2 separate regions of the Homo sapiens genome follow, and region 1 is reported to be linked to region 2. Evidence: microRNA targets listed by miRTarBase, many of them from high-throughput screens and not tested one by one. Region 2 holds a microRNA gene; the other region holds the end of a gene's coding sequence.
What was found. Region 2 holds the annotated microRNA hsa-miR-6768-3p (CAAAGGCCACAUUCUCCUGUGCAC, at 1,176-1,199, opposite strand). A microRNA usually pairs through its seed, bases 2 to 8, with sites in the 3' UTR of a target mRNA and lowers its output. Matches are read on the target gene's strand: a 7mer-m8 pairs with bases 2 to 8, a 7mer-A1 pairs with bases 2 to 7 and ends in A, and an 8mer does both.

Region 1 (3,293 bases), not on the chromosome of region 2:
CCCGCCGAGGCCGCGATTCTGCGCCAGGCCCTGCCCTTCGCGTCCGCACAGCAAGGTCAGACGCCGGTCATCGCAGCACCAGCACGACGCCAGGCACTGGCCTCCGGAGCCGTTCCACCCAGCAAAGATCAGCCCTTCTCAGCCGCCGCTCTCTGTCTGGGTCAGCTGATGAGAATCCTTCCTGTGGGACTGGCTCAGAAAGGCTTGCCTTTCAGAGCAGATCAGGCTCTCCTGATCCTGAGGTCCCAAGCCGTGCTTCCCCGCCTGTTTGGCATGCAGTCCGTATGCGTGCCTCCTCACCCTCACCCCCTGGGAGGTTCTTCCTTCCCATCCCTCAGCAGTGGGATGAGAGCTCCTCCTCCTCCTATGCTTCCAACTCCTCCTCCCCGAGTAGGTCTCCTGGCCTAAGCCCCTCATCCCCTTCCCCTGAGTTTTTGGGCCTGAGATCTATCTCCACTCCTAGCCCTGAAAGCCTTAGGTATGCTTTGATGCCTGAGTTTTATGCTCTGAGCCCTGTCCCTCCAGAAGAGCAGGCAGAAATAGAGAGCACAGCTCACCCCGCAACACCGCCTGAGCCGTGACCCTCTATAAGCATCCTCTAAGACCCACAGAAGGAATCAACATTTACCCACTTTGTGAATGGGCTGCCTGCCCTGTAGTTAGCTGCGAGGTCTCCCAAAGTTCCAGCCGTTAACCAACATCCTGAGTAGTTTAGAAGCCTCTCCTCCCCATGACTCCACCACCTAGCACTTAACCTGCTGTTGGCCTTTGATTCTGGGCCACCTTCTTCCTCAAGAGTTTGCCTTTGCCCTTGAGCTGAGATTTCTGTTTTCCAAGTTGCTTTTCTGTTATGAAATGTTTTAATTAGTAAAATAAATTGTTTTGTTTAAACAAAATGTAGAGGTGTGTTTTTTTATTGCGGTTCGAAAAATCGTTAATCCTATATCATATTTGGAGGGTTAAAGAAAGTTGTTAACATACTAGCTGACTCTTTGGACGAGAGAAGAAATAAAATACTGTCCTAGCAATAATTTATTCCCACTGGCTGAAATGGAGTTCTGTGCAGGAAGTTCCCACTTAGGTCTATATACCCTCTTAGCAGAGGTGATTTGCAACTTGGGCAAGAAAAGGGGCCAGGGTCTAACCCAGGTGGCTGGAGAAAAGGAGGGGTGATGGAGACATCCAGGGTCAGGAAAGGAGCAGGGAATGATGAAGTTTGGGATGAGAGGTAGGGAGACGATAACCCAGATGGGAGTAGGGAAGCTGGGAGGAAGATCCAGAGTCAGGAAATGGGGAACAGCAGGAGTCAGAAGCTTGAGAGGGGAATATCTTAGATTCTAAAGGATAAAAAAATGTTTATGTGTGGGGAACGGGCTCCTGAGGTCTTTGGGGGTGGGGAGAATGTGGGAGGGTGATTTGGGGCTAATAATTGATGGGAAAATGGTCAGACATTCAGTGGAAATACGTGTTAATCGATAATGTTACTGTAACAAAAATAATTGTAACTGAGTTTGAGCAGATATGTGAGGGTGTGTGTGTGTGTGTAGACATTTGGAGAGAACTACATGGGCATACACCATGCTGTGAACAAGGTGTATATCTTTTTTTTAATAACTGGTGATATGGTCTTCTATAATCTACAAGTTCCACATTGACCATATAACTATTTTTTTAAATTAAACTCCGCTGTTTTTTGAAAATTTAAGTTGTAGAAACATAATAGGAGAGACTACATTAAAAGAACAGAGTGAAAAAATATAAAGCAAACCAGCAAAAGAAACTCCCTTTCCCTCCTTTCTCATATTTCTCCTCTCCTTTGCTATTCTGGTATGTGAACAGTACAAGCATAGTCCTGACCAAAAAGGGCCCTGGTCACAATTTGGAGGGTCCTGTTCAGGCCCTGCTCATGCTTTATTCACACCACAAAGCTAAGAGTCCATGGGGGATAAGTGGGACCTGTGTGCCCACCAGGTCCCAACATCCTGCCACTTTTATAGAAAGTGTTTCAGGTACCCTCATTCTTCAAGGCTGTTTCTAGGGCTTGCAAGGCCGTATTCTCAGGGTCCTTCCTAAGGAAAGAACACATATTTTAAAAGCTCTCACTTTGTTATATTTCTTTTTCTTGAGTAATTCTAGATATCCAAAGACTAAGACAAAAAGTAGACAGTTCCAATGCAGCAAGTCACAACCTCCCAGTATTGGAGGGCCTACATTTATTCCCATTTCACAGATGTGGAAATTGAGGCTCAGAGCAATTTTGTGATTTTCAAAATCTCATAGCTAATAGAGCTTGGCTCCAGAGTCAGAATTCCTGGGTTTGAATTCTGGTGTTCCTATTGAATCACTGTGTGACCCAGTGCAAGTTAGTTAACCTGGGATCCAAAGCTTCTGCATTTGTCAATTGGGCACAGTAAGAGTGTACGTCTCCAAGATTATTGTAAGGATTAAAATGGATGGTGCATATTAAGTGCTTCCAACAGTGTCTTGCACATCGTGAGTGCCCAGTACAGATGGTTCTTACTCTGATTAGGATTATGATCATGTGTCCAGATATTTCTGACAGCCCCTTAACAGGTTACTGGTCTTTCCTAAACAACAATACTTTCAAAATCAAACTGGCTGTTTCAAAAATGGAGAGGGACATTCTTTATTGTACTTAGTACTTTAAAATATGAAGGCATTTCCACAAGCTATTGAGCAACATTTTTACCAATACCAGAGGCCACTGCGCAAAAATGTAAAAAAAAACAAAGGATTGAGCCTCAGAGGTACAAACTCTAGGAATTTAACAAATTTATACTCGCAGTCGTTACATGAATGCTTCTGAGAACAGTAGTTTTTCTCCCAGCGTTATTTGTATCTTAACTTGTTTAAAATATTCATTTTAATGAATGAATGGAATACATCAAGGATTAACATTATTGACTGCAAGTTGCCTTTATATAATACCTGGCATGCAGATATAACAGGTAAAAATCATAGTATGCTTGTATGTGTTAAGTACTGTTTTAACGTTTATACATACACTAACTCGTTTAATTCACAGAACAACCTTAGGAAGTAGATGTTCATATTGAGCCCATTTTATAGATGAAGACGTTGAGGAACAGAGGTTACATAAAATATGAAGGAAAGACACATTGAACTGTGGACTCTGTCATGGCCCCCTTGCGAGGTTATTAACTTCTTTTGTGAAGTAAATTGCATGATATGCCCCTGCACAGAGTACTACTGTTTTGCCAAGTGTGAAGGTAATGGTTTGGGCATGTTCATCTGCAATTTATTATGAGAAA
Region 2 (3,273 bases):
CGAAAGTTTGAGACCAGCCTGGCCCACATGGTGAAACCCCATCTTTACTAAAAAAAAAAAAAAAAAAAAAAAAAAAAAAATAGCCAGGCGTGGTGGCCGAAGCCTGTAGTCCCAGCTACTCGGGAGGCTGAGGCAGGAGAATCGCCTGAACCCAGAAGCGGAGGTTGCAGTGAGCTGAGATCACGCCACTGCACTCTAGCCTAGGCGACAGAGTGAGACTGTCTCAAAAACATAAATAAACACAAATGCTTTCTAAAGTGGCTTTAATATCACACAAGCGGCTCTTTGGTCTACAGTGAGAGAAAACAGAGGGAGCCAGGAAAGGCTCCCCGCTGGCCTCTGGAGTCCAGGAGCCTTAGGAAGGCTGAAAGCCAGCCCTGACCAGCAGGCTTAGTTGTCCTGAGAAGAGCCAGTGAGGCCACCTGGTCCAGTTCACCAGGTTTCCCAGGGAAGCACAGGCATCTCTGGGTCCCCGAGCACAGTGCCAGGGAAGACACCCCCAATCCCCATCTGAACAGGCCGAGGGCAGCATGGGAAAGGCTCAGACTGCAGGTTCATCCCGCAGGATGGTAAGGACACGTGCTCCTCCCTCGCAGAGCAGGCTGTGCACAGCCCGGCACAGGGCCAGCCAGGGCGGCCCCTGCGGCTGTGCAGCGCTTACCAGGGGGAGGAGTTCAGCCATCAGGACCTGGGGGCAGGGCAGGGCAGGGCCAAGGTCTCAGGGGCACCTAGGCGGGGGGCAATCCTGGGACAGGCTTCGAGGCCCCCATGCTTCAGCCCTCCTCCCTCCTTCTGAGGCTCCAGGCTCCCTCCTGCCGTCCCAGCCCCGTCTGACCCATGCACTTCCCAACCCACACACACAGACCCCAGGCTTGCCCCCATCCTCCTGGGTCCTGGGGGGTGGAGCAGTCAAGCCCCTACCCTCGGGTCCTCAAGGCTGCGGACCTCTGTTGCACCCCCACCTCCTCTTCCAGAAGCACCTTTTCCAAGTGGATCTGCTGGTCCAGCACAGCCACTCGCAGCTTGAGGGCCGCCAGGGTCTGCAGCTCCTGGGTGCTGGAGTAGACAAGCAGCTGGGGGCTCCATGCAGGCTCCGCTCTACCCCCACAGGACGGCGAGGCTCCGGGGGGCCTCCCCACAGGACATGGTCTTGGTGGCTGTTCCGCCACCGCTGTGTGCACAGGAGAATGTGGCCTTTGGGGTAGCAGCCGAACCCAGGGCCCCGCTTTTCCTGTGTGCCTGGCCCTCCCGCATCTGCACCACCTGCCCTGCCTTTAGGAGAAAGGTGGGCTTTCAGGACAGCCCCATGCAAGATGGTGTGTCTTGGGCCTGGACTTGCTGGCAGGGAGTCCTCTGTGGGGTGGCCCTCTGCCTGCCTAATTTCTTTACTGTGTTTATGCATGACTTTTATGAGATTGTCTTTCCTTTTGACAAATGATGTATCTTCACTCTTAAAACTTCAAGCAATTAGAAAATACAAAGGAGGAAACAAGTTCTATAAATAACCACCTCACGCAATCCCAGGCGAGTCACCTCCCAGGAGCTGATTCTCACGAGCTACTTTCTCTTTTTTTTTTTTTTTGGAGACGGAGTCTCACTCTGTCACCCAGGCTGGAGTGCAGTGGTGCAATCTCAGCTCACTGCAATCTCTGCCTTCTGGATTCAAGCAATTCTTGTGCCTCAGCCTCCCAAGTAGCTGGGATTACAGGTGTGCGCCATCATACCCAGTTAATTTTTGTATTTTTAGTAGAGATGGGCTTTCGTCATGTCGGCCAGGCTGGTCTTGAACTCCTGACCTCAAATGATCCGCCTGCCTTGGCCTCCCAAAGTGCTGGGATTACAGGCGTGAGCCACTGTGCCCGGCCTCACACGCTACTTTTTCTTTTTCTGAGACGGCATCTCACTCTGTCGCCCAGGCTGGAATGCAGTGGCGCAATCTCAGCTCACTGCAAGCTCCTCCTCCTGGGTTCACGCCATTCTCCTGCCTCAGCCTCCCAAGTAGCTGGGACTACAGGCGCCCACCACCACGCCTGGCTACTTTTTTATATTTTTAGTAGAGACAGGGTTTCACCGTGTTAGCCAGGATGGTCTTGATCTCCTGACCTCATGATCCACCCGCCTTGGCCTCCCAAAGCGCTGGGATTACAGGCGTGAGCCACCGCGCCCGGCCCTCACATGCTAGTTTTTCAACAACTGGGTGAATAAGCAACTGCTCAGAGCAATGAGGTTCTGTGTGCGGGGAGCAGCGAGGTGGGAGAGCTGCCCTGAGGAGGAGAGGAAGGCTGACTGCTCCCATAGGACGACTGGTGAGGACCCAGCACACTGGGGAGTGGCGTGGGAGGGGTGGAGGGGCCCACCAACTTGCATCTGGTCCCTGGGCTGCTCACCCTTCCCTGAGGCGCAGACAAGCCTGGCTAAAGCACCCTGTCCCCGGCCCAGACCTCAGTGCAGGTGGCAGGGTGGGGGCGGGGTCTCACCTGCACGCAGCTCCTGCAGCCTGTGCAGACACTGGCCCACCATGGCCTGCAGCCCCTCCAGCGTGAGCAGGCAGCGGTACTCCTGCATCCAGTCCATGGGGGCTGCAGAAGAGTCAGGGAGAGCAGGTGGGGCCCGTGGCAGTCTGGAAACCCTCCCTGCACTGGCCCTCCACACTCCTCCTGATACAGACCCAGGACCCACTGACCTGCCGAGAGCTCCTCCCTCATGCGCAGTCTCAGCAGCGAGCAGGCCTTCCGCAGGCGCCCCGCCTCCGCCTCCACCTCCACAGCACTGAGCCTGGGCTGGGGCCCGCCTGACTGGATATGGGTCAGGAAAACTTCCCTGCAGCCAAAGCCCCTCTGCTCCCACCAAGAACGGGGCCTGGGGAGTGGCCCTGGCCATCCCACGCCAGCCCCTCCTGGGGCTGCTCTGCAAACCTGCCAGGTTCAGAGCTAGAGGCCCCCAGGGCTCCCACAAGCCCAGCAAGGATACAGCTGTCTGCATGTTCTGGAGGAACTGGGTTTTGGCAGCGGCGGCATCCGTGGAATCACTGGTCTGTGTGGAACTGAGCTGGGCCCACAGGCTGGGGTGCACACGTGGGGTGCACAGAGGAACCACAGAGGGACACGGTTATTCCAGCCAGTAAGCTGGGCCTTGGGAGGTAGGCAAGGGCCAGGGTGGGGACCCCAGGCTGGGCGTCTGGCTCTGCTGAATGCCAGGAGGGGCCTCCAGAGGCCGCAGGGAACCAAGAGGACACTGACTAGGACAAGGGGACAAAGCTGACCGGCTGGCAGA

Region 1: miRTarBase lists EZHIP as a target of hsa-miR-6768-3p. Seed matches in the 3' UTR shown: 7mer-m8 at 764-770.

The regions. Positions count from the first base shown.
Region 1 is chrX:51,407,948-51,411,240 of GRCh38, forward strand. It overlaps EZHIP (EZH inhibitory protein), which reads left to right. Exons shown (of 1, transcript NM_203407.3): 1 at 1-896. The coding sequence ends at 581. Among named protein-coding and RNA genes, the nearest start is that of EZHIP, 2.6 kb to the left of the region's middle.
Region 2 is chr16:2,461,937-2,465,209 of GRCh38, reverse strand. MIR6768 (microRNA 6768) reads right to left here and starts at 1,243; the gene lies at 1,172-1,243. It overlaps TEDC2 (tubulin epsilon and delta complex 2), which reads right to left. Exons shown (of 10, transcript NM_025108.3): 6 at 2,971-3,061; 7 at 2,684-2,795; 8 at 2,478-2,579; 9 at 981-1,171; 10 at 247-688. The coding sequence ends at 542. It overlaps TEDC2-AS1 (TEDC2 antisense RNA 1), which reads left to right. Exons shown (of 1, transcript NR_135198.1): 1 at 1-260.